4 linked regions of the Homo sapiens genome follow. The protein of the gene in region 3 interacts with the protein of the main gene of each other region in a pairwise test. Each region holds a gene or a part of one and is shown on either strand. Other genes may lie near its edges. The genes, in order: CDCA7L, CREBZF, CTNNBL1 and CATIP.

What was found.
Region 1: the proteins of CTNNBL1 (region 3) and CDCA7L interact in binary tests that used the Homo sapiens proteins (3 or more experiments, as listed by UniProt).
Region 2: the proteins of CTNNBL1 (region 3) and CREBZF interact in binary tests that used the Homo sapiens proteins (3 or more experiments, as listed by UniProt).
Region 4: the proteins of CTNNBL1 (region 3) and CATIP interact in binary tests that used the Homo sapiens proteins (3 or more experiments, as listed by UniProt).

Annotation. Positions count from the first base shown.
Region 1 is NC_000007.14:21,907,866-21,914,900, forward strand, and holds part of CDCA7L (cell division cycle-associated 7-like protein), read right to left. Parts: intron 3,890-7,035; coding exon 3,752-3,889; intron 643-3,751; coding exon 265-642; intron 1-264. UniProt on the Homo sapiens protein: Plays a role in transcriptional regulation as a repressor that inhibits monoamine oxidase A (MAOA) activity and gene expression by binding to the promoter.
Region 2 is NC_000011.10:85,657,481-85,661,836, forward strand, and holds the end of CREBZF (CREB/ATF bZIP transcription factor), read right to left. Parts: 3' UTR 510-4,356; downstream 1-509.
Region 3 is NC_000020.11:37,732,021-37,739,055, reverse strand, and holds part of CTNNBL1 (beta-catenin-like protein 1), read right to left. Parts: intron 6,178-7,035; coding exon 5,989-6,177; intron 1,679-5,988; coding exon 1,572-1,678; intron 1-1,571. UniProt on the Homo sapiens protein: Component of the PRP19-CDC5L complex that forms an integral part of the spliceosome and is required for activating pre-mRNA splicing.
Region 4 is NC_000002.12:218,359,850-218,366,884, reverse strand, and holds part of CATIP (ciliogenesis-associated TTC17-interacting protein), read right to left. Parts: intron 6,313-7,035; coding exon 6,226-6,312; intron 4,151-6,225; coding exon 3,983-4,150; intron 2,258-3,982; coding exon 2,133-2,257; intron 221-2,132; exon of another isoform or gene 87-220; intron 1-86. UniProt on the Homo sapiens protein: Plays a role in primary ciliogenesis by modulating actin polymerization.

The sequences.
Region 1 (7,035 bases), on a different chromosome or scaffold from region 3:
GGTCAACAGTAAGCAGCATTATGGCACCATGTAGGGGCTAAAAATGGTGCTGGGGAATCTCTTTCTGTTCCCAAACCAGAGCTGATCATGTAATAGTTGCTCTGGGTTCTGGAAAAGTAAAAGGATACACAATACCCAGAGTATATTTTCTTGACAGAAGCCAAAGCAACAGCAGCAGCTGTAGGAGCAAAGTGGTTCTGGGAGCCCAGCAACTGCTGCCAGAGCCTGGTGCCAACTCCCAGGACGCCCTCCGTGAAGCCTCACCATGGCTTTGTTCTCCTTGATGTTCATGGTCCTTTTCAGCAAAGCATCTGAACTCTCCTGGCTCTCATCCCGAGAGTCATCCTCAGACTCAGAGGTAGAATCTTCCCTTTGTATCACCTGTCTACAGTCTTTCTTTCTTTCAAGAATTGTTTTTTTCTCATTCTGTAAGCGTGCGCTAGAAAACAACTGCTCGGAAGAACTGTTTTTATCTGGTTTGTTGGCCAGCTTCTTGGTGGGGAACTGAAAGGCTACTCGAAGACCAATACTACTTCTTCTAGACCTGCTTCTTCTAGGGGTAGCCTTATCTTCTTCTTCATCTTCCTCTTCCTCGCTCACCAAAGATGCTTTGCCATCATCACTCAAATCTGACTCCACGACCTAATAAAATAAGAGCAAGAAAAAGCACAAAGACACTGTTACAGACCCACAAAAAAGACATGCATTTAAAACAACTGACAGCATTATGAGAAAAAACATGAAAAATGAAAAGCTTCCCCTTCATATTATGAGTTCCCTCTGAATTTCCTTTAAATGTGCAAGAAATTGGTTGATGAATAAAATCAGAGAGCAGGCAACCTACTACTGAACTGTGCACCATCATACCCGCGACAGAAATGGGTTCCATTCAGAGCATGAGGGCTGTAAGCAAAACACTGACAGGGTGGGTTCCTCCACCGTGGGACAACCAGGGAGCACCAGCAAGAGGAGAGACAGTCACAGAAAAGGAGAGACAGCAGCATGACAGATGTGATCTTCAGACAGGAAAGGACGCAACGGGGGAAAAATGCTGACTGGTCTCCTCTAAATAGCAGGAACCAGACTCCTGAATAACAGGGCGGGAGAGCTGACTGCACCTCAGGGCAGTGACCCAGGACAGGCAGATGACCTGCCACTGCGTCCTCAGTCAAGGGGCACCTTTCCCTTCTCTGGAACCCTCAGAGCCATGAGGTGAAACCAGGTCACAAAGCTCTACAGGTTGTAGCAAAACACCACTCAGTCAACTCAAGAAATCCTCACCCGACATTTTCAAATTCCACATGGCAGAGGTCTCCAGCATTCAAACATTGCTCTGTTTTACAAGTGAGAACACAGTAAATATGGAAGGCAGTAACAGGGATACATCACCTAGGTGACAGCTTGGATGTGACGGGACTCTTAGCAGTGGTACAGAGACAGGTTTAAGTATGTAAGATCTAGGACGTCTTCTGGGCATCCTTCCATGACCAGAAGCTAGAAAACTTTGGGAACCATTATCTGGGAATTCTGAAAATCTACCAAGAACACGGAATGGCACCGATACGGACCCAGGATCAGTTCAGGGACTCTGCTTCCTCCCCGGTGACGACCATCAACCCCAAACTCTCGTTGGACTAAAGTTAGAAATAAGACACAGGGAGAAAAAAAACGCAGATAACTGCCAACCCTGGTATATCCACACCAAGCCAAGTGAGGAGTAAGACTATATGGCACTGATTTATCTATTTTTTAATACCCTGAACTTCCCATATTAATAGCTTCAGAATTCAAAATGGTGTACTGCAAAGGAACCCAATTTCAGGGGACACTGTCAGGGAAGAACTTCAGTTTTGATCCATTTATCTACCATCCTCATCATCGACAGGCCTCTCTTTACCAGATGTGGAACAGCTCACTACAGAGGCCTGAAGGAAGGAAAGAACAAATGGTACACAGCAGCCCAGAATCAGACCCAAGAGAAGAGCACAAGTGTAGTACATGGATGTGGTTATTTCGCATCCGGCCAGCAGACCCCTGGAAACCAAGTTACAGCAATGTCCCATTATCAAGAAAGATAGGTTCGCCAGTTCCCACAGGGGTGGGCAGGAGGGTGGGCTGGGAGGCAACAATGCTTTTCTTCTCACTGGATTCTAAAATAAAATTTGCAAGGGCCTGTGCTGAACTGTAAGCTATATCATGATCTATGTAACTACATCACACAGTCCATAGACTTGGGGGCAGGTGGGAGGGAAGACTTCTGGGGTAATTCACTTTCTCTCACTAGAAATGCAAATGCTTCGAATAACCAGACATCACTTCACTAAAGAACAGAAAATAAGTACATTGCTAACTGATGATGCCCATTAGGGTTTTAGAAGCATCTTAATATCGTGCTGGCAAGAAGCTAGGGACTTGCTGGCCAGAACTGATGGAACTGCCACACAAACAGCTTCTGCAAAGAAAGCCAAAGGAGACCTGGGGCCTCCAGGCTGGCACAGCTCTATGTTGCTACTCATAGCAAAAAATCACTATCAAACGAAGCAGCCTACCATGCGGGCTTTTATGCTCTACATTCTCTCCTAGGACAAGTGAGGGACATGGCAGGCTAGGAGTCACGGCTTATTTATACCTCTACACAGTCTCTGCCAAAAGTTAGTCTTTAGCAGCTTCTGGCTGTGAAGAGGCGTAAACTCTACGTTCCATCTTCATACTGAAGAAGATAGTAGCATGTTTATTTTTTGCATAAATGTATGCTATTTTTAGCAGAAAACATTTCTGCACTTAAATCCGAAGGCTGTGCCTTAAAGTTACCTTCAGGTTCAAACACGAGTGGGCAGTAAACTAGCCTAACTGTGCAGGATAAAACAAACAAATAACTAACAAGTCTGTTCATAGGAAGTGCTGAGAGTAGACTTCCCTCCAGAATCCAGGCAGGCCTGGGTCATCTTTAACACTAAAAAGCATGACAAATCCAAATCCACAATGCATGGGGAACACCAAGTTTGTACCACAGCCAAATTTTTGCCAAATTAACTTCAAACCAAAAACTGTCACTTCACACACAGTAAGAAAGTATCTCAAGAAAGTTGTCATCTAAGATAAACTTTTAGATAAAAGAGGTTTAAGGAACTCTTGAGATAATTTTTTTTTTTTTTTTTTTTTTTTTTTTTTTTTTTTTTTTTGAGATGGAGTCTCGCTCTGTCACCCAGGCTGGAGTGCAGTGGCTCAATCTCAGCTCACTGCAACCTCTGCCTCCCGGCTTCAAGAAATCCTCCTGCCTCCGCCTCCCGAGTAGCTTGGATTACAGGTGCCCGCCACCACGCCCGGCTAATTTTTGTATTTTGAGGAGAGATGGGGTTTCACCATATCGGTGAGGCTGGTCTTGAACTCCTGACCTCAGGTCCACCCGCCTCGGCCTCCCAAAGTGCTGGGATTACAGGTATGAGCCACCGTGCCTGGCCAAGAGAGATAAATTCTTTGAGAAGGACAATAAAGGACGCCTGGGACACATCCCCAAAAACCCCCTAAGGCACGAGGAGAAGATGAATGGATTTTCTCTAAGAGAATAATGGACTGGTGGACCAGGGATTAGCCTTCCAGGAGCAATTTTTTTAGGTTATGTTAATTGCTTGTAAGATAAATATGTAAGAAAAATCTTTTCACTTGTGAAGTGACTGCTTACAAGTAAAACTCTTTCAGAAACAGGATTAAAAACGTTACCACCCACATCCCTTCCTGTTGTAATTATTACCATTACTTCTGGGTTAGTCTTTCCATTCAGATCACTCTGCGTAAATCCTGCAAAATCCTCAGTCTCTGAGTCAGTGTCCTCTATAAAAATTCTTCTTAGCTCTTCTGTGAAGTATTTGGAATGAAAGCGCACATCCTGCTAAATTAAAGACACACATACATCAGAGACGGAAAGTAGAATAGAGGTTACCAGGGAAGGGTAGAATGAGGAGCTACTGAACGGGTACAGAGCTTCTGATGGAGATGACGAAAATGGATGGACAACAATGTGAATGTACTTAATGCACTGAACTGTACACATCAAAAACAGCTGAAATGATATACTTCATGTTATGTGTATTTTACCACAAAAAAAAAAAAACACTGGCCGGGTACAGTGGCTCACCCTGTAATCCCAGCACTTTGGGAGACCGAGGCAGGCAGATCACTTGAACTCAGGAGTTCAAGACCAGCCTGAGCAACATAGTGAGACCTCATCTCTGCAAAAAATACAAAAATTAGCTGGGTCTGGTGGCATGTACCTGTAGTCCCAGCTACTTGGGAGGCTAAGGTGGGAGGATTACCCAACCCTGGGAGGTCGAGGCTGCAGTGAGCTGCACACCAATGCACTCCAGCCTGCGTTGCAGCCAAGATCACACCATTGCACTCCAGCCGGGTGACAGAGTGAGACCCTCTCTCAAAAAAACCCGCATACGTACACGTATATATTACATATATACACATTTTCTAAAGCTTACAAAATTCAGACCTACAAGACAGACAATTTTTAAAAATTGGGTGTAGTCTCAATCAGCTTCTAATGTGACTGGTAAGTGCTCATGGAATTCAGCTTCTCCTGCCAAAGCTGGCAACCAGACACGTCTGCTTTCACATAGAACCAAAACACATGGAAAGAAGATATGAGGAGAAAACCTGGCTCCCTCCCACGTGTTGGCTTCCCTTTCCAACAGCCTTTCAAAGCCGGAGTCTCCTCCAAGTGGGTGAGCATGCCTCCCATTCACCAACAGCGAGCTTCTCTGTAGGAAAAGGCTGGGGCCTCTCTCAGCCCCCACCGCCCACCACCAGAGAGCCTAGACTTGCTCCATGAGCAGACACCATGGGGGCCTGATGGAAAGCTCATTCAAGGTCACCCCCAGGAATTTCTCTCGTGCAGGAGGTGAGAGGTGAACAACCATGGCTAGGTGGCAAGTGAGCAGAAGGAAAGATGCAATGTGACTCTTTAAGAAAAGGCATTTTCTAATACTTTTTCTTTTGAAATAGTGCAAAGATGGAAACCCAACTCTCTTAATAGTATACTTGAAAGAAAGAGGAAATAACAAACTGCAGGCCAAAGGGAGACCCACGAGACCAGCCCCCTGCAAGCCCGCCACACCTCATCAAGACTAGAGTCTGTCCCCAGTTTCCTCTGACGTCTCTTCCCCCCATCTCTGATATAGCAATGACCCCTTGTAACACCACACTTGGCGGGGAATCTGTATCTACCCCACTGCGTTTCCCCGCCTTTAATTATATACTTCTTTGAGCTCATATATCTCTGGGGAAAGATAGATATAATAGACAAGTGGAAAAACTTACAGGGGCACACAGAAAGAAATGCCTACATCTAGCATTCTGTAAGCTTAAAAATGTCTCCTATGAATTATTATGGGTAATTGGAGTGAGTTTGCTCAGAGCTGAATTACTTTGTTCCTTTGTTGATAGCTGTAGTGCAGCTGCTTGAGAAAAAAAATTGCACACACAAAAGGGAAGTTTCTTTAAAGTGAAATTCAAATCGTGTTTAAGGGAGACCAGAGTTAGCATACACATACTGTGTGCAAGTTCATGCAGCTTCTCTCTATTGGTTAAAATGGATCATGAGCCTGTGGGGTCGGGGTAGAGAAGCAGCCAGGGCTTGATTATTAAGGAAGAATGGTACACAGCTGCTGCTAAGGAAACCCACCATGCACCTGAGGCCTCTCAGTGCAAGAAACATCTGGCTCACAGAGCCTTGGGCCAGCCCCTGCAGGCTAATTTAGAGTGGTATTTCTGTGTGCAAATTTCATCAACTACCTAAAGCCCCTGCCTAGGGCCTGAAGGGAACAGGGCAAGCCTTGAAGCTATGAGTTCCCATCTTCCAGTTTTTCTGGCTATTTTGATCCTGTGTGCTGGCCTCCCAGGGCAATGGGCATCTTGGGAGAGATTACCATCTTTGATGGTCAGTCCTGATAGAGAAAAACAACTTACCATTGTCCTGAACTGAGGCCTGTGCTTTAGTTTCCTTACTCCAAAGTGTGTAAGTACTGTTTTCCATGTGGGTCTGTATGATGCCAATCTCCACTCCACACTGCTCCACTGCATTCTGAGTTAGAAACCCTGGCACTGCTGATTGCTCTCTGGCACTGGTTCATTCATCTTCAAAATCAATACTGGGTGCTATGCTATAGGCCTTGGTCATCTACCATGATCAGGACCATAAGCAAATAACACATCAGAGGAGAAGCTAACATAGGTGGATAAACTTATTTTGAAGTCCATGTGACATGGAAGAAACAGACCAGAGAGCAATGGCCTGTTGAACCAGACAGCCAGACAAGCACCCCATTTCAACTGCACCCAGCAAACAACACCCCCCGTGCTCACTGTATACAGTCAGGTGGGGTGTTGGATGCTTGAAATCAGAGGAAAGGAACAATACATGAGGACGAAAAGTCAGAGCCAGGGAAGCTAGAAAGCACCATTCAAGTATGAGGTCTCCCCTTCTTAAGGAGTTTATAATCTAACAGGGAGGCAGACAGGTCCACGAATAACCCTGGTGAGGGTCAGTGCTCTAAGGGATACAAAGCAATATGGCACACGGAGGGAAAGAAAATCCAGTAAGACTTCATGGAAGAAGTAGCATAACTGGATGTGAGCCACGGTAGAGGCTAGAAAAATGGTGAGAGCACAGATAGGCAGGAACAGCATGGACCAGTGGGCAGAAAGGGCAGAACAGTGGATAATGAGAGTGTCAGTTCAGTTCCTGTGCCCTGCAGCATAGCAGGTAGGAAAGAGACCCGGCGGGGTAAGAGGCTGAGAAGTGGTGGCCCTGGATTTGGAACATCCCAGCTTGGTACTTCCCAGATGTGGGGCCTTGGGCAAGTCATTACACCTTCCTGAACGTCAGTTTCATCACTTGCAAAACTGCAGCTTCCCAGGGAGGTCTGTGGATTAAATGCAGTATCTGTATGAAAAGCAGTTGGCACACTGTCCTCCCTGGGGAGAACACACCTGACTACAAAAGGAGTCATCATAGCAGCAGAAGCAGCT
Region 2 (4,356 bases), on a different chromosome or scaffold from region 3:
AACAAAATTTTAAGTGGCATCCAAGATTATTCATGAATCTCTTAATTATTACTTCCAAATAGTGACATATCTGTTAAGTCATCTTATGCTACTTAAAATTATAATTTAGAAAAGGCATCTTTGTGAGTGAAACTGGCCTTTAGCTTCTGTTTAAAGAAAAACATAAAGCTGTGCTGCCAAAGATGAAAAACTCATGTGAAATTAATAAAATACAATCTCAATTTTTCAGAAAGCAAAGATGATTTGTTCTTTCAACAGGCACATAAAATATATTATCTACCAAACTTATATAAAAAATGATCCCAGTTATGAGGCAAAAGAATCTATGTGCACAAGAGACTGAAAGGAAGCATGCCAAAATGTTTACTGTGGATATTCTATGGCTTATAGAGTTATAAGGGTGATTTTTCTTTTCTTCTTGATTCCTTTCAGGATATTCCAAGTTTTCTATAAAGAATATGCTTTACTTTTACAACTAGGGAAAGAAAGACAGAAAAATATATATAACATTTAAAGGGCAAAACAATATAGCTGTTTATTTTACAGGCTAAAATATCAAGATGAAAAGCTCTGATCCCAAATCATCCATTTTACCTATATTCTGTCACTTTTACTAAAAGCAGAGTTCTACTCATCCCAGTGAAAAAAACAATGAATTAAAAGTAATTTCTGGCGTTAACCCAAGTACCGAGTTAAGACTCCTTAAGAATATAGAATTATGTAATCAACTTAGATAATTCAAAGCCCAATGATATAACTAAGTTCTTTGACGATTGAGCACACATTGTTTCCTTACTTATCTTTAAACATTCCTAGTCCAATTACTCCCTAGCATAATACCATTTATAAATGAGGATGAGTTTACAATGGTTTCTGTAACCAAAAAGTATTTCTAATATCTGTCCTCTGCCACATATTTTTAAATTATCTTTTCCATTAGCAGAAATGGGCAACATAAGCAATAAATCATGTTAAGTCTGTTGCTACAAATTTACTTTGCCAAAATTTTTGTTCAGAGGGCAGATATCTGCATTATTTAAGGACATTTAGTCATTTGTAGCTAACACCTGAAGTAAACTACCCTCAATCAATTTTTATATTTCAGTCTAGTCACTGTAGACAAACTATTTAAATCTTTTATAATTTACTTTGTGTAGTTATTTGGCTTAAAAAAAAAAAAAGAGGGCTCACATTCTATTTAAATTAAGACAATATATTTTATAAAGCCCAAATTATAGTACACTAAGAGCCAGAGGGGTCTAGGGAATTGATCTCAGTGGGTATACAGCAAAGACAAAATTTGGAGGCAGACGCTAAAGGAAGTTGAGATAAATAAAATTCAAATCAGTGTATTAACAGAACTACACAAATGTTTACAACACAGTAACTACACTTTTCAATTAGTTCATTGTGAAAACTGAGCAAAATATTTTCAACAATTTTGGGTCAACAAAAAGTATGGAATATTTTAAGACAATAAAGAGTGACTGGTGTTGAGAGTACTGAGGCTACACAGAGGTACTGAAATTCAAATCTGAAAAATACTGTGCTGGCCACACAACACTACAAATTTCTAATGGAAGAATTCCCTTTTTGATCCGCAGCTTAGGTGGTAAGTAAATAAAAAAACAGCTCAGAAAAACAGCAAAAATATTAACATTTAGGAGTCTCAAAACTTTGTATTGGCTGTGAGTCTGGGGGAAAAAAACATAAATGTCATACTACCAATTAAACTTTCAAGAGTCATCAGATTATTTAGCTTTAAAATTTTACTAAATCAGACCTTAAACTACACATTCAAAATGCTGAACTAGATAATCACATATTAAAAAGGTAATGACTCATTATCAGTGAATTACCCAGTCTGTTCTATCAAAGTAGTAGTTAAGGTCACCAAATAATGTTGGTGCCTTTGGTTCTGGAATTATAACTAGCTGTACTGTAGGAGCATCAGCGCCTAAGTTTTAAGCCAGTGGGAATACTCTGCTGCCTGGCTTCACAGGCACTGAATACACTTAAAATGGTAAGAAACTGAATGGATTTAATAAGTTTTGAATAATACAATAACCAACTGTATATTTATTATGAAGTAAAAGCCAATCTCCTACCCAATCCCTCTTCTATCAGCTGCACATTTCCAAGTAAGTGAGATAAAATGACTCAATCTAAACCACGTGAAGGAATGTATTAACATAATCCAACAAAAATGAAATAAAACAATCCAGAGTTTTGAGTGTTTTTTCACACTTGTAATAAACTGAAAAAATATTTCAATTAAAACAACCATATGCCACAAAAAGCCACTCCCATCATCCACAATACTAAAGTCCTTATACAACACTAGATAAATTTTTATATAAAACAGTAGAAACTAGCATACCATTAATTAGAAACCTCAAAATATTCAGAAAACAGTATCAAGTACTCAAGAGAAAGCTCAAGAAGCCAAAACCTCAAGAATCCATACATCCTGGTTGTTACCCTAAATTGTAATTAACTACCCACACATTTAATCATAATCAACTTTTTCAAAGATATACAAATCAATGCATCTATTTAAAAGGACTACTCTTTATAGTTCAGAACTTTACATTAACTTTTATATTCTACTCAGCAGGGTGTCTGTCTGTACTCCAAATTAGCTCTCATGTTCCAGGAAATAAATACAAACTCATATGCCTTGTGATCACTGATGGCCTGCTTATGTAATTCTAGTCCACTAAATGTTAATTCCATAGAATATGCTCTTGATTATGTAAAAACTCTAATTTCTTGATGAAATACTGTAATTCTCCAAAGGTTACAATTTTGTAAAGATATGCAATAACTGAGTATCACTCCCATGAAAGACAAAAAAAGTATAATTTTGTTCCAAGATTAACTTAGTCTCATGTATCTCTATTAAGTCTTTCAAGGATTCCAGAGAATCTTTTCATATCTCCATTTCTGGAAAGTGAAATCAGTATAGAAGTAATTTGGGAACTTGAAAATGGCATTCATTTTTTTCAGCAGATGCCAAATTTTTGACCGACATGGTTCTCACAATTACTTTGTTACCAACAGTCCAGTCAGTTAACAGGTTGTAGGAAAAGATTCGTTTTTGCAGACACTGCTAAGCTGTTCAAAGAGAAGAGAGAGAGATTAATTTAGTGATTATAAAATGCACAAATATTTAAAATATTTTGAACACTTCTTGTTGGATTATATCAGAGGTGTGACTACATTTTAACAAAAGTGGACTTTTTAAGATAAGTCTGGTCAAAGAAGTGCAGAAACAGTAAGTCAATATGATAGAAATAGTAGGTCAAAATATGATGTGTTAGTTCAATTAATGTATGAACTCCTGCCACCATCAAAAGACAAATATTAAAAAGCTACATCTTTAGTCTAGTTCTGTATTTTACCAGAGGCACATTTAGAAGAAAAACAAAAGGGTCACCCAAATACTAAATTGTTTTCAACCATTACAGTAAATAGAGCCAAACCTAGAAATTTCAAAAACAATCCATTTTATATTCCAGAAATCTCCTTTATCCATGTGCTAATCATCCAGAACACAATTTTCTAAAAATAGTAAGACAACAGTTTCACATTAATCATAACTTTTTTAATTAACAAGTAGTGAATCGGACACTTTAAGATATTGTTTACTACATACTGAAATAAACAGATCTGTTTAAATTCAGAAACCCAAACATTTACAGTAAAATGTGCTTACACATAAATATGACCAAATTTATTTAAAGCCCCTATTAGATAGATCCTAAGTACATGCAATTACCATGTAAAAACAAGACCATGAAGTTGATGTAAAAAATGACAAAATCACTAAGTCACCAAAACTAGAAAAAAAAAAATGAAATGGAAACTGAGAAAAGACAGTTAATAAAACATAAGGAACCTAACAAAGCAGCTTTAAAAATAGGCCATACTAATCCTTCCATTTTCAAAAGTTCTTATCAAGTAATTCCAAAAACTGCCATTTATAAAATGACATTCTAAAAATCTACACTTGGAATTTCAAAGTATCTCAATTCAGAAAGCTTTGACTACTGTTTCTCCCCAGCCCACAATTTCAAATAATGCAGGAAAAGTATTGACGTAAGGAAGAAAATACTCCAACAGAATGTTATAGTTTTTAGAAAAATGAACTTACTGCTTTCCAGAACCTTTTAAGACCCACAGTCAGCATTAACAATCATTTTTCCTATTTTCATCCATTATTTTCCAATATCATGTTAGAGATGAATAAATTCTTTGAGCCCATAACTAAAAGATCAACAAACCTGGTTTTATTATGACACCATATTTTTGTCATTGGTACTGCACAAAATTATATACAAAGAAATATATACA
Region 3 (7,035 bases):
GTACAAAACCTGATAGGACTCTAATGCTGGATAAGCTGGGCCCTGATCTATTAATAGCTACTCCTACTATCAAAGAGGGCTGTGGCCCTAGGCCCAGTAACCACATTCTCCCCACTCTGCCTTCTCATCCACAGCACAGGGACAACATAGTTGACCACGCTGGCCTCTCTAGGTTGCCATGAAGACTCTGTGCCCGCTGACACCTCTGTGCCTTTGTTCATGCTCCTCATATTGCCTGGCATGCCTTCCTGTGTTCTTTTCCGCCTAATAAAAATGAATCTTCAAGGCCCAGCTCAACTACTATCTTTTCTGTGACACCCTCAATAGCCCCCAACTTGGTATTTACTGTTTCTTCTCCTATTATATCTCTTTTAAAGTGTCTGTTTCCTTCTACCTTGCCTTTATAGTCAGTCTCCCTAGTAACCTAAAAACTTGAGTGCAAAGCCTGTACTACTCAATTGTTAATTGCCTGGGGGCCTTGGGCATATTAAGATTCATTAAAATTGTATGTCCTGGGAGGGACAAAGATAGGGAAAGAAAGAGAGGTTTAGAACATTAAAATCGTATAAATGTGAAAGTCCCCTTGGTTAGGATTCAAGACTGACTGAAAGATGCCAGATTCCTCACATAGCACTTCATAGTGCACCAAGGTGCCAGTGTAGTAAAACTCACGTTAACTATCATCTCATGGGCACCTACTATGTGCCAGGTACTAAGCTAAACACTTACATTATTCTCCTTTAATCTTCATACAACCCTGTGAGGAAGGCATTATTTCCTTATACAGATGAGACACCCAAGGCTAAGAAAGGGGAAGTAACTTATTCAAAGGGATGTGTGTATCACACCAATATCTGTCTAACTTCAGAGCCTCTGAAATGATCTCCACAGTAAAGCTATCACTAACGGCAGGCACGATCAGTCTTCTTTGGGCACTGAAAAGAATAATGCAGGAGAGTTAATATGTTAACTGCGGGGCTGATCTTGAAAAGGGCTAGCTTACAAGGCTGGCCCTAGGCTGGCAGCCAGGAATTTGGCTTTTGAAATGTTCCCTAAGTGATAAGGTTGCTGCTTTGTCAGCCCGGGGCACTGAACAGCTGCTTTCCTTCCAGGAGCCTACAATTTTGGTTGTTATTGTTATTACAGGCAGAGAATGCCTACATGACCAGTCCTCCATAAAAACCCTGAACTCAGAGTCTGAAATGGGCTTCCCTGGACAGCATCACTGCACACATGTTGATGCATTTCATTGCTGAAGAAAGAAGCATGTTTGTATAATCCCACCCACTGGGAAGGAGAAAACATAGGAAGCCTGTATCTGAATTTCTCCAGATGCCACCTGATGTGTCTTTTTCTCTTGCTGATCCTGTTGTGTGCCCTGTGTAATAAACCACAGCCCTGAGTATCACTGACTTTGAGTCCTGGGAGTCCTTCTAGTGAATTCCCAAACATGGGGGTCATCCTGGGATTCCTGGCCCAAATCACAAAAGCCAAAACAAACCAAAATCAAAACAAAATTAGCCAACGAAACGCCACAGAGGAGACATGGTATCAGTGGAACAGAACCTTACTTCTCTGGATTGTCTGGAAACTTAATCCGCAATTCTTGGTTTTTATATGATCTCTTTTCAAATGTGAGGATCATTTTCTTCACTGAGCTTTCATCCAATGGCTCCTCCTGGTACAAAGAGACAAATGCAAAAACTTCAGTCCACAGGGGTTTCACATTCATTGTCACTACTTTCCTGTGGCTCTTATACCCCACCTCACTCTGCCATTGACCTTTCTGGGTTCAATGTACAGTACACTTTTTTTGTTTTGTTTTGTTTTTTGAGATGGAGTCTTGCTCTGTCGCCCAGGCTGGAGTACAGTGGTATGATCTCAGCTCACTGCAATCTCTGCCTCTCAGGTTCAAGCGATTCTCCTGCCTCAGCTTACCGAGTAGCTGGGACTACAGGCACATGCCCCCATGCCCGGCTAATTTTTTTGTATTTTTAGTAGAGACAGGGTTTCTTCGTGTTAGCCAGGATGGTCTCGATCTCCTGACCTCGTGATCTGCCCACCTTGGCCTCCCAAAGTGCTGGGATTACAGGTGTGAGCCACTGTGCCCGGCCACAGTACACACTTTATCTCTCTAATTACAATGAGGAGTAAGGGCCTGTAATCACATGCTTCTTTTCGGGTATATCACATTGGGTGTCTCACACAATGCCCACTATCTGTAACACAGAAAATTCGGTTTGAGGTGTTAAAGACTGGGCACTTCAGCACTTCAGGAGTCCAAGGTGGGCAGATCACTTGAGGTCAGGAGTTCAAGACCAGCCTGGCCAACATGGCAAAACCCCATCTCTACTAAAAATACAGGCACATGCCTGTAGTCCCAGCTACTCGGGAGGTTGAGGCATGAGAATCACTTGAACCTGGGAAGCAGAGGTTGCAGTGAGCCGAGACTGTGCCGCTGCACTCCGGCCTGGGTGAGAGAGGGAGACTCTGTCTCAAAAAAAAAAGAAAAGTTGTTAAAGACTCACTCATTCAACAAATATTTCTTGAGCACACTGTATGGCAGAGAGTAAGCAACAATATTAGATAATATTATTATACATTTACCTTGTCATCCTTTGCTATACATGTAAGATAAGACTGACAGGTTTAAAAGAATTGTTTAAGGTCAAACTCTGAGTCAGTGACAGTGACCCTTAATCTTTTCCTACAGCAGAAGTTGGCAAACTGCAGCCCATGAGCCAAATCCAACCTACTGCCTGTTTTTCCACAGTGCGTAAACTAAGAACGGTTGTTAATTAGCTATAGTCACTGCTTAGCATTTCTTATATATTACTTTGCCTGGTACTTACTAGATGCTGAGAAGGAATTCAGACAGGTACTTTGAACCCTGAAGTAGCATCAAGAATTTAGTAACCTTGCCTAGAGAATGCAAAAAAAAGCTAGTAGACTGTACAGAATTTTCTGGCTTCATACATTGGAATAATACCTATGAAAGCAAATAAAATGAATATTTGAAAACTAAATCATTTTTTCTCCAAAAAATCTACACTGAAATTTCACACGTTTTATCTTCAGTTTCCTTCCAGTTTAAATTAATGTGCTGCAATGCACCCTGCTTCTCTTCATACTATCCCAACTCAAAGCTTCACAGCTTTGTAGTCATTGACCATAACTCACACCTAAAAGCAATAAAGAAACTGCTATTAAGAGAACCTGAAATAGATCCTTTTGGAAAGCACTGAATCATCCCATAATTTTATAAGTACTCAAAAATGTTAGCTATTATTCTATTATTAAATTTCTATTTCCACATATGGGGTTTTAAGTGGGAGCTACCCATAAATTCATTTTCAGCATGACACATTTATTAGATTATACCAATGACTCCTAGATCCCAAGGTTCTCTATTGAACCCCTACCTCCTCCCCAGGGTCTACAGCTTAAAGACAGGTTCCCTGACACAGTAAAAACAAGTCAGAGTCCTGGCTCAGTCAAGACTCAGAGCCTAGCTTCACTACTTACTAGCCATGGGACAATGTTACTTTGCTGAATATATTTCTCAAAGCTTCATCAAGTCCAGCTAATTCTATCTCCTAAGTCTTTCCTGAACTCATCCACTACACACTTAGAATAAAATCCCAAATCCCTCACATGATCTACGTAAGGATCTGGCAGGATCTGCCCAGATAATCTCTCCAACCCCAAACCAGTGCAAAGACTCCCATTGCTAGCCCATGTCTACTTGTTCTCTGGCATAAGTAGACTCTCCAGTGTCTGGCACACAGCAGGTACTCAGTGAAGATCTGAGGAATGGAGGAAGGGAGGAGGGGAGGGGAGGGGAAGGAAGGGGATGAATGAAATTGTTACCTGTTATCTCTCAAGGTCATAGAGATGACCTAAAGAAAGGATGTACATAAAACTACTTTGTAAACTACATGAATGCAAGCTGTTATGGTTATTATCAGCAACAGGCACAATGTACCCAACATACCACTAGAATTTAACTAAAATAATCAAAACATTTCTAGGAAAGGGTTAAATCACTTTCAAGTAAGCTCAATATCTGCTACTTTTTCTTTTCTTAGCTAACATCTTGCCCCACTCTGGAGAAAAACCACATTAGTGTTAACACAGCTCTCATGGGATTTCCGAAGTCCTAGCCTCTCCGGGGTTTGGCCTTCCCTCCTTTAATTTCTCTCCAACACTGGGGGAAAACTGAATTATCAGTCTTAGTCATCAGCCACAGCAGTATCTCCAATAGCTCAACGTCAGAAACCAGAGGGAGATTTCAGAAAGATGAATGCTGATGATGTAGCACAAAAAGGACAATAATATTTTACAAGTTCACGTGACTTTACAGGGGCAAACATCACTTGTTTTTCATCAAATGGGACTTCAGTGGCAGTGAGAAAATAACTCCTGGACTTGTAGCCTTCCATGTGTCATTTTTACAAAGCGATCTCTTTTTCCCTGTCCCTTAACAGACGGGTTGGTCCCACATTACATTTCTGTCTCCCAGGCTAGAAACCACTTACCCATGACAGCTACTATCCTAATCCTCCAGTACCAGCCTTGCCCTACATGGGAATTATACCTGCCAATTAACTGCTGCTGCAGGGCTAACAGATTGAGCAGAAGCTGGTGAGGAGGGAAGGGAGGGAGGATGTGCTACACACACTGTTTGTCTAAGCCCTGGCAAGGCTGCTGCCCTCAGAGAGGAAATTAAAAAATTCAGGACTGTCTCCCACCACGTATTTCTAAAGTGCCATCATCTTTTAGCGGGAGACCCCCAAATTAGCACTAGTACAAATCCTAATAAAGACAGAGCTATTGTCACAACACAGTAAAGACCTTTTTGGAATATGAATCCATTTTTTCTTCTTCTCAGATTCACAGCCAACCTCATTTTGTAATCCAAACTTAGCATCGTGTCTTTGAGAGAACCAAAAAACAGCTGGCTCTTAAGACTCTTATTTCCATAATTCATATTGAACAAAATGCCAGAGTGAAATAACACACAAGTTAACACTTAAAGATTTAAAAAGACACAGAGGTAAGGTCATTTTGTTTTTAATCACTGATATTTTACCTCTACTCTTCCCAGCTTCATTCATTTATTCATTCAATAAATATTTATTAAGGGCCTACCAAGAGCTAGGTATTGCTCTGGGTGCCAAAGATAGAGCTGTGAACAGAACAGAGCCAGTCTCTGTTTTCATGGGAGGCTGAGAGGAGGACAGCAATGAGCAAAATAAACAACTAGAATTTCAAATCATGATACGTGCTATGCAGACAATATACAAAATACAGTAATGAGGAAATGAGAGAATGGCTTGCAGGGCTACATAGGAAAGACTTCTTGGAGGAGGAAACATCTGAACTGAGACCTGAATGTGAAGAAACCAGTCATACAAAGCATTAAGGGAGACGAGCATTCCAACAGAGGACACAGAAGTCCAAAGGTCCAGAGGCAGGAATGAGTGGAAAGGCCCCAACGCATCTTGAGGAACAGCAAAGGGAAAGGCCCGAGGAATCTCCTTCCCTAAGCTGTACTTTTGCAGTCACACCTAAATACCTAATACTGTGGAACCCATTAAACTTCTCCACTTTTGTTGCTTTGCTAATACCATTTTCTCTGCCCAAAAAGCCCTTCCTTCCACTTGGTGAAATTTGACCCCTCTTTCAAAGATAATAATGCAAGTGCCTTCTATGTGTCCTCAGTAAGATCCAGGAAGCCTGCCCTGACCCTCCCCTACAGTACATAATATGGAACAATTTTAAAACTCTGTCACATTCTTTACATCTCATAAGATGCTTTCCCAACTGCACTAGCCCACTTAACCTTCACATTAACGCGATGAAATATGAATTCTTAACCCCATTTTACAGATGAAGATGGGAAGCTCAGACAAGCTTAGTATTTGGCCCAAAATTACGTTTTACAGGGCCAGCCATCTCAGCTCCCACCCAGCGCTGCCACGTTACCTCTTCCTCTTCCTCTTCCCCATCTCTGTCAATAATCTGCAGCAGCCTTTTTTTGTCATCATCCGCTTCCTCCACCACAGTCATTTCTTCTTCCCGATAGCGGCCGCGTTCTCGAGTACCAGTTTGTTTCCGACGCATCTTCTGCTCCTCCTCTTCATCATCCCGGGGACGTTTTGTGCCCCTATTGGGCTGAGAGAAAAGAAACATAAGATTTTAGAGCTGGATACAACATAGAAGCCAGGCGTGGTGGCTCATGCCTATAATCCCAGCACTTTGGGAGGCCAAGGCAGGCAGATCTCTTGAGCCCAGGAGTTTGAGACCAGCCTGAGGCAACATGGTAAAACCCTGACTCTACAAAAAATACAAAAAAAGACTTTGCAAGGCATAGACAGCAAATATCCTAAAAGCTTTCAAGAATTCTCTGACTCAAAAGCATCCAGCATACAACTTCTCCCACCACATGGGGTAAAGCTCTATGTGGTCATTTTTCAGATCCTTAATGATTCTATAAATATACCATGAAAGTCAGTGGGAATTTTTTTATACGCAGTTTTGCCATTTCACAAAAGTTCCTATGTATACGGAAATAGCAACAAAGCTATCTTAAGATGGGGACACTGGGTTAGGCTCACATACTAGTCAAGATATAACTCCCAATGCCAGCGTCTTAGCACCTGGTTTTAATTCACATCTACGTAAGATTACAAAGCCTTTTTTACAGTTACTCACAAATAGTACAAACATAAAATATTACATATGTAACTTCTGAATGTCTACTGTACTCCCAATTCTATTTTACAGAAGAGTTGAGTAAGGCCCAGAGCCTGGGCAAAGGACCTAAATAGACACTTCTCAAAAGAAGATGTACAAATGGCCAGAAGATATATGAAAAAAATGCTTACCATCACTAATCATCAGGGAAATGCAAAGAAAAATCACAATGAGTTATCATGTCACACCTATCAGAATGGCTATCATGAAAAAGACAGAAGATAAAGTGTTGTTGAGGGTGTAGAGAAAAGAGAACCCTGTGCACTGTTGATGGAA
Region 4 (7,035 bases), on a different chromosome or scaffold from region 3:
AGGGTGGGGCCCGAATCAGATAGGATTAGTGCCCTTATGAGAAAAGGGTGATGCCAGAGAGCTTTCTCTTCACTCATGCACGGAAGAAAGGCCATGTGAGGACACATTGAGAAGGCACTTGTCTGCAAGCTAGGAAGACAGCCCTCACCAGAAACCAACCCTGATGGCACCATGATCTTGGACTTCCTGCCTTCCAGCAAATATATTTCTCTTGAAGCCACCCAGCCTGTGGTGTTTTGTTATGGCAGCCTAAGCAGACTCCTACATGACAGTGCCCCTTGAGAGACCTGTCCCGGGCCTCTTTACTTCTGCCTCCCTCTCTTGTTTATTAAGTTCCTGGGTGGTGTTCATTTCTGGATCTCCAAATAACGCACAGGGCTTGGCAAGTATTAGGCCCCCTGTTTAAAAAAAACAAAAAGGATCTTTAGAGGTACAGCACTCGAAAATCATGGAGCCTCTTGGCCAGGCACGGTGGCTCACGCCTGTAATCCTAGCACTTTGGGAGGCTGAGATGGGTGGATCACTTGAGGTCAGGAGTTTGAGACCAGCCTGGCCAACATAGTGAAACGCCGTCTCTACTAAAAATACAAAAAACTAGCCAGACGTGGTGGTGGGCGCCTGTAATCCCAGCTATTTTGGTGGCTGTGGCATGAGAATCACTTGAACCTGGGAGGTGGAGGTTGTAGTGAGCCAAGATTGCATCCCTGTACTCCAGTCTGGGTAACAGAGCGAGACTGTCTCAAAAAGAGAAAGAGGCCTGTCGCAGTGGCTCACACTTGTAGTGGCTCACGCCTGTTATCCCAGCACTTTAGGAGGCCAAGATGGGCAGATCACTTCAGGTCAGGTGTTTGAGACCAGCCTGGCCAACATGGTGAAAGCCTGTTTCTACTAAAAATACAAAAATTAGCCAGGCGTGGTGGCAGGCACCTGTAGTCCCGGCTACTTGGGAGGCTGAAGCAAGGGAATCACTTGAACCTGGGAGGCGGAGGTTGCAGTTAGCCAAGATTATGCCACACATTCCAGTCTAGGTGACAGAGCGAGACTCTGTCAAGAAAGAGACAGAGAGAGAGAAAGAGAGAAAGAGGAAGGAAGGAAGGAGAAAGAAAGAAAAGAAAAATTATGGAATCTCCTGCTATGCGGCATTCAAAATAAAAAGGTTGGCCTGGAGCTGTGGTGCATACCTGTAGTCCCAGCTACTAGGAAGGCTGAAGCAGGTGGATTGCTTGAGCCCAGGAGTTGGAGGCTGCAGTGGGCTATGATCGCACCAAAACCGAAAACATACTAAGTTATGAGATAAAGCCAACAATGTTTTGATTACCTTTTCCCCAGTGTAGTGATTATGTGAATATCTATTCTGAAATTTTAAGAAATAAACTCGACTGGAGTCTGTCTCAAAAAAACAAAACAAAACAAAAAAACAGAAAGAAACTCTTTCTTCCACCTGAATTTTCTTTTTCTTTCTTTTTTTTTTTTGAGACGGAGTCTTGCTGTCACCCAGGCTGGAGTGCAGTGGCGCGATCTCGGCTCACTGCAAGCTCTGCCTCCTGGGTTCACGCCATCCTCCTGCCTCAGCCTCCAGAGTAGCTGGGACTACAGGCGCCCACGACCACACTTGGCTAATTTTTTGTATTTTTAGTAGAGATGGGGTTTCACCGTGTCAGCCAGGATGGTCTCAATTTCCTGACCTCATGATCCGCCCGCCTCAGCCTCCCAAAGTGCTGGGATTACAGGTGTGAGCCACCACGCCCAGCCCTGAATTTTCTTATGATTTGGAGCCAGTGCTTTGCTGGAGACTGCACGGCAGCCTGCCACAGGCAATTCTTCCAGCACAGTGATTTCATCAAGTGTGCAGTCATTCAGACCTTGGTGTTTTTCAGTATTATCCCTTACACAGTGGTGGCTGCACTAGCTACACCCCAGGCCTGTGGTGTGCAGTGAGAAGGTTTGGGAGGCACTGTGAGGGTTAAGAGGACGAGCAAATAAATGAAGAAAGAGTGAATGATATGGATAAAGCGGAGGGACACTCCTATCTCAATGCCAGTTCTTCCTGGTGCTATCCCCAGAAGCAGCCGGTCTCCTTGAGCACCTACAAGCTCAGCACCACCCCTCTGGGCCCACCATCAGCAGCTCACCCATCGGAGAGCAGGTAGTACTGGCAGGACATGGGGATGCCCTCCTCCGCGTGGACAGTCTGCTCCACGATGAAGACTTCAGCCTGCTGATGGTCTACCTGGATGGTCTGGAAGCCCAGGTTTTGCTGGCAACAGCCAAAATTGGGGGGTGGGAGGTAAGGTGGATGCCCGCCAAGGGCTCCCCATCATCTTACCTTAGCCTTTTCTCCATCTCATAACAACCTCAAGACATTTAATATTGCATCTCCAAACCTCCAAGCTGAGTTGGCGACCCCTCATAGGGAGCTAGCTCCAGGTTGCCCTTGCCCTGACCCCTCCCATGTCATCTCGCTGACCAGGTGCTTCTAGTTGGCAAATTCTGTTACAGGGATGAGAAGCGGTATGCGGGGGGGTGTGGGAGCGGAGAGGTAGGATGAGCTACTAGGGCCAGTGGGTGGAGGTAAAGTGAGGCTCAGAGGTGTGAGACCAGACAGATTTGTGGCCACCTCAGACCTGTGCTGTTGCTGGCAGGCTGTCCCTGTTGTGATTAAAACTTAAACCCCTGTTGTAGCTGCAGCTATGGAGAAAAAAGTGCTAATGTTAAACACATGTTTCAAAGAACACGGAGGGGAATGGATTGTGCTTGTTCATGTCAAATGCATTGCTGCTTGGTGTGTTTTGATAGACAAGCCTGGAATGTAATTTACAAAGATGGTCAAAGAAACACAAATCAGCCCCCAAAGTGTCTCACTGGAAATTGTGTGTTCAGTGGCATGGCTTTAAAATCACTGATTGCAGGAAGTCCTAGGCATGCTGATTATGAAATTTTAGTTAAAAACAAAAAACAAAACAAAAACGGAACACCCTTTGGGGTTAAGAAATAATAAAGGAATATTTCAGTAAAGTTGGACATGTTACACTTCCTAAAGTTAAAAAATGATTTATTTTTATTTATTTATTTTTTTGAGACAGAGTCTCCCTCTGTTGCCCAGGCTGGAGTGCAGTTGTGCGATCTCAGCTCACTGCAACCTCCGCCTCCTGGGTTCAAGTGATGCTTCTCCTGCCTCAGCCTCCCGAGTAGCTGGGATTACAGGCACTTGCCACCACACGCAGCTAATAATTTTTGTATTTGTAGTAGAGACAGGGTTTCACCATGTTGGCCAGGCTGATCTTGACCTCCTAACTTCAAGTGATCTGCCCACCTTGGCCTCCCAAAGTGCTGGGATTACAGGCATGAATCACTGCGCCTGGCCAAAATGACGTTTTTTTTTTTTTGTTTTTTTTTTTTGAGACAGAGTCTCGCTCTGTCACCCAGGCGGGAGTGCAGTGGCGCGATCTCGGCTCACTGCAAGCTCTGCCTCCCGGGTTCACGCCATTCTCCTGCCTCAGCGTCCTGAGTAGCTGGGACTACAGGCGCCTGCCACCACGCCCCGCTGATTTTTTTTTTTTGTATTTTTAGTAGAGGCGGGGTTTCACCATGTTAGCCAGGATGGTCTAGATCTCCTGACCTTGTGATCGGCCCGCCTTGGCCTCCCAAAGTGCTGGGATTACAGGCGTGAGCCACCACACCTGGCCCAAAATGATGTATTTTTTAAATCAGCCCTGCACTATATTTATTTTTCCTGGACTGACTTCTGTGCGGAAGGGTTGCTTCTCTGAACTGTTCCCACTTCTCAGTCACTCTCAATTCATCTGCCCCACACTCCCAGACAAACATGCTTTCCTGCCCTTGAAAGCCCCATTCCCACCTGTGCTGTTTTCTCCCCACCTGCCTCCCTTTTCTACTCCACAGCTGTTCCCCATCTCAGTGCTTTTCACGCCTTTTCTAGTTCGCTCCCAAGCCAAGTCCCCTGCCCAAGGGGACCCCTTACATAGGTCAAATAGCAGAGTTTGCCCTCGGTGTCCAAGGTCAGGAAGCGGGCATTGCTGGGCACCATCCGCCGCCAGGCCATCACCCTGAGCAGCACCAGGTTGGCAGCCTCTGAGATGAAGCCCTTGATTGAGCTCCAGGGGAAAGAAGTCACTCCAGTCTTCACTTCCTGTTCAGAACTGATCTGGGTCAGGGTCCTGGAACCAGGAAGGGGCAGGGGACAGGAGGGTGGGCAAGCCAGGTGTTGGGCATACGGTTTTGTTTTTTTTTGAGACAGAGTTTCGCTTTTTGTCACCCAGGCTGGAGTGCAATGGCGTGGTCTCAGCTCACTGCAACCTCCGCCTCCTTGGTTCAAGCGATCTCCTGCCTCAGCCTTTCAAGTAGCAGGGATTACAGGCTACCATGCCTGGCTAAATTTTGTAATTTTAGTAGAGACCGGATTTCACCATGTTGGCCAGGCTAGTCTTGAACTCCTGACCTGAGGTGATAGGCCCCCTCTGCCTCCCAAAGTGTTGGGATTACAGGCGTGAGCCTTTTTTTTTTTTTTTTTTGAGACAGGGTCTTGCTCTGTTGCCCAGACTGGAGTGCAGTGGTGCGATCTCAGCTCACTGCAACCTCCAGCTCCCAGGTTCAAGCGACTTTCCTGCCTCAGCCTCCTGAGTAGCTGGGATTACAGGCTCACGACACTACGCCCAGCTAATTTTTGTATTTTTATTAGAGGGGATTTCACCATATTGGCCAGGCTGGTCTCCACTCCTGACCTCAAGTGATCCGCCCGCCTTGGCCTCCCAAAGTGCTGAAATTACAGGCGTGAGTCACCACACGCCTGGCCTTCAGCCGGTCATATGGTTTTTAATGAATGAATCCTTGTCTTTTTTTTTTTTCCTTTTTCTGGAGAACGGGGTCTCGCTATATTGCCCAGGCAAGTCTCGAACTCCTAGGCTCAAGCTATCCTCCTGCCTCTTGCTTCTGAGAGCTGGGATTACAGGCGTGAGCCACCGCGCCCAGCCTAATGAATGAATCGTTAGTCTGGACTCCTGGCTTCATCTAATCTGGTCCCCGCTCAGAGTTCTGAAGAGGACATTGTGAAAGAAAAATAAATCTTGGGACCCCAAATCACTAAGCCAAAGGGAAGTCAAGCTGGGAACTGCCTCAGGCAAAGCTGCCTCCCATTTTATTCCTAAACAAGGTAGCTACTAAGAGAAAAAAAAGCTATATAACTCCCTCACTATTTGCCCACAAGGAAATTCCTTGTGGACAAAGGACAGACAGAACTCAAAGTCATCCCTCTGCTCACGTGAGATAAATGCATATCTGATGGCTTTCTCTGCTCTATTGTTTCACTAAGCCAGAGTAAGGCATAAGTGACTACTTTTCTAACCCCCATAGCATGTAAATTGTGTATTCAGTGAAAGGCTAATCGGAAACTTAAAAGCATGTCTCTTATCTACCTATGACTTGGAAGCCCCCTCCCTGCCTCGAGTTGTCCTGCCTTTTCCAATGAACCAATGTACATCTTTTTTTTTTTTTGAGACGGAGTCTTGCTCTGTCGCCCAGGCTGGAGTGCAGTGGCGTGATCTCAGCTTAGTGCAAGCTCCACTTCCCGGGTTCACGCCGTTCTCCTGCCTCACCCTCCCGAGTAGCTGGGACTACAGGCGCCTGCCACCACGCCTGGCTAATTTTTTGTATTTTTACGTCTGGTGAACCAGTGTACATCTTACACGTGTTGATTGATGTTTCGTGTCTCCTTAAAATGTATAAAACCAAGCTGTAGGCTGGGCGTGGTGGCTCACGCCTGTAATCCCAGCACTTTGGGAGGCTGAGGCGGGCGGATCACCTGAGGTCGGGAGTTTGAGACCAGCCTGGCCAACAGGGATGAAACTCCCTCTCTACTAAAAATACAGAATTAGCCGGGCGTGGTGGTGCATGCCCATAATCCCAGCTACTCGGGAGGCTGAGGCAGGAGAATCACTTGAACCCGGGAGGTGGCGGTTGCAGTGAGCCGAGATCACGTCATTGCACTCCAGCCTCTGCAACAAATGTGAAACTCTGTCTCAAAAAAAAAAAAAAAAAACAAGCTGTGCCCCAACCACTTTGGGCCCATTTCCTCAGGACCTCCTGAGGCTGTGTCATGTGCGCGTCCTTAACCTTGGCAAAATAAACTCTCTAAATTGATCTGGACCTGTCTCAGATATTCTGGGTTCACAGTGTGTAGTGCAACTCCCATCTGGCTCTCATCCTTACCTCACCCTCCTTGATACTTCTGGTCACAGCCAGCTGATCATCCTGCTTCAGCAAACTCATCTTCCGTTCCATGGGGAGGATGAGGAACTGAGGGCCAGAGCATGCGGGGGAGGATCAGGGACTCCCTGGGTCCCCCAGAGGTCACCTGACCCTTCTCCATTAATGAGAAAACTGAGGTTTAAAGATTGTGACTTAAAAAAAAAGCAGCCGGGCCGGGCACAGTGGCTCACGCCTGTAATCCTAGCACTGTGGGAGGCCGAGGTGGGCGGATCACGAGGTCAGGAGATTGAGACCACCCTGGCTAACACGGTGAAACCCCGTCTCTACTAAAAATACAAAAATTAGCTGGGTGTGGTGGCACATGCCTGTAGTCTCAGCTACTTGGGAGGCTGAGGCAGAAGAATTGCTTGAACCCGGAGGCGGAGGTTGCAGTGAGCCGAGATCGCACCACTACACTCCAGCCTGGGCAACAGGCTGTTTTTGAGACTCCATCTCAAAAACAAACAAACAAACAAACAAAAAACCAAGCAGCAGGGCCAGGTGTTGTGGCTCATGCCTGTAATCCCAGCACTTTGGGAGGCCCAGGCGGGCAGATCACTTGAGGTCAGGAGTTCAAGACCAGCCTGGCCAACATGGCAAAACCCCATCTCTATTAAAGATACAAAAATTAACCAGGTGTGGTGGTGCATGTCTGTAATTCCCAGCTACTTGGGAGGCTGAGACAGGAGAATTGCTTGAACCCGGAAGGTGAAGGTTGCAGTGAGCTAGATTGCACCACTGCATTCCAGCCTGGGTGATAAGAGCAAGACT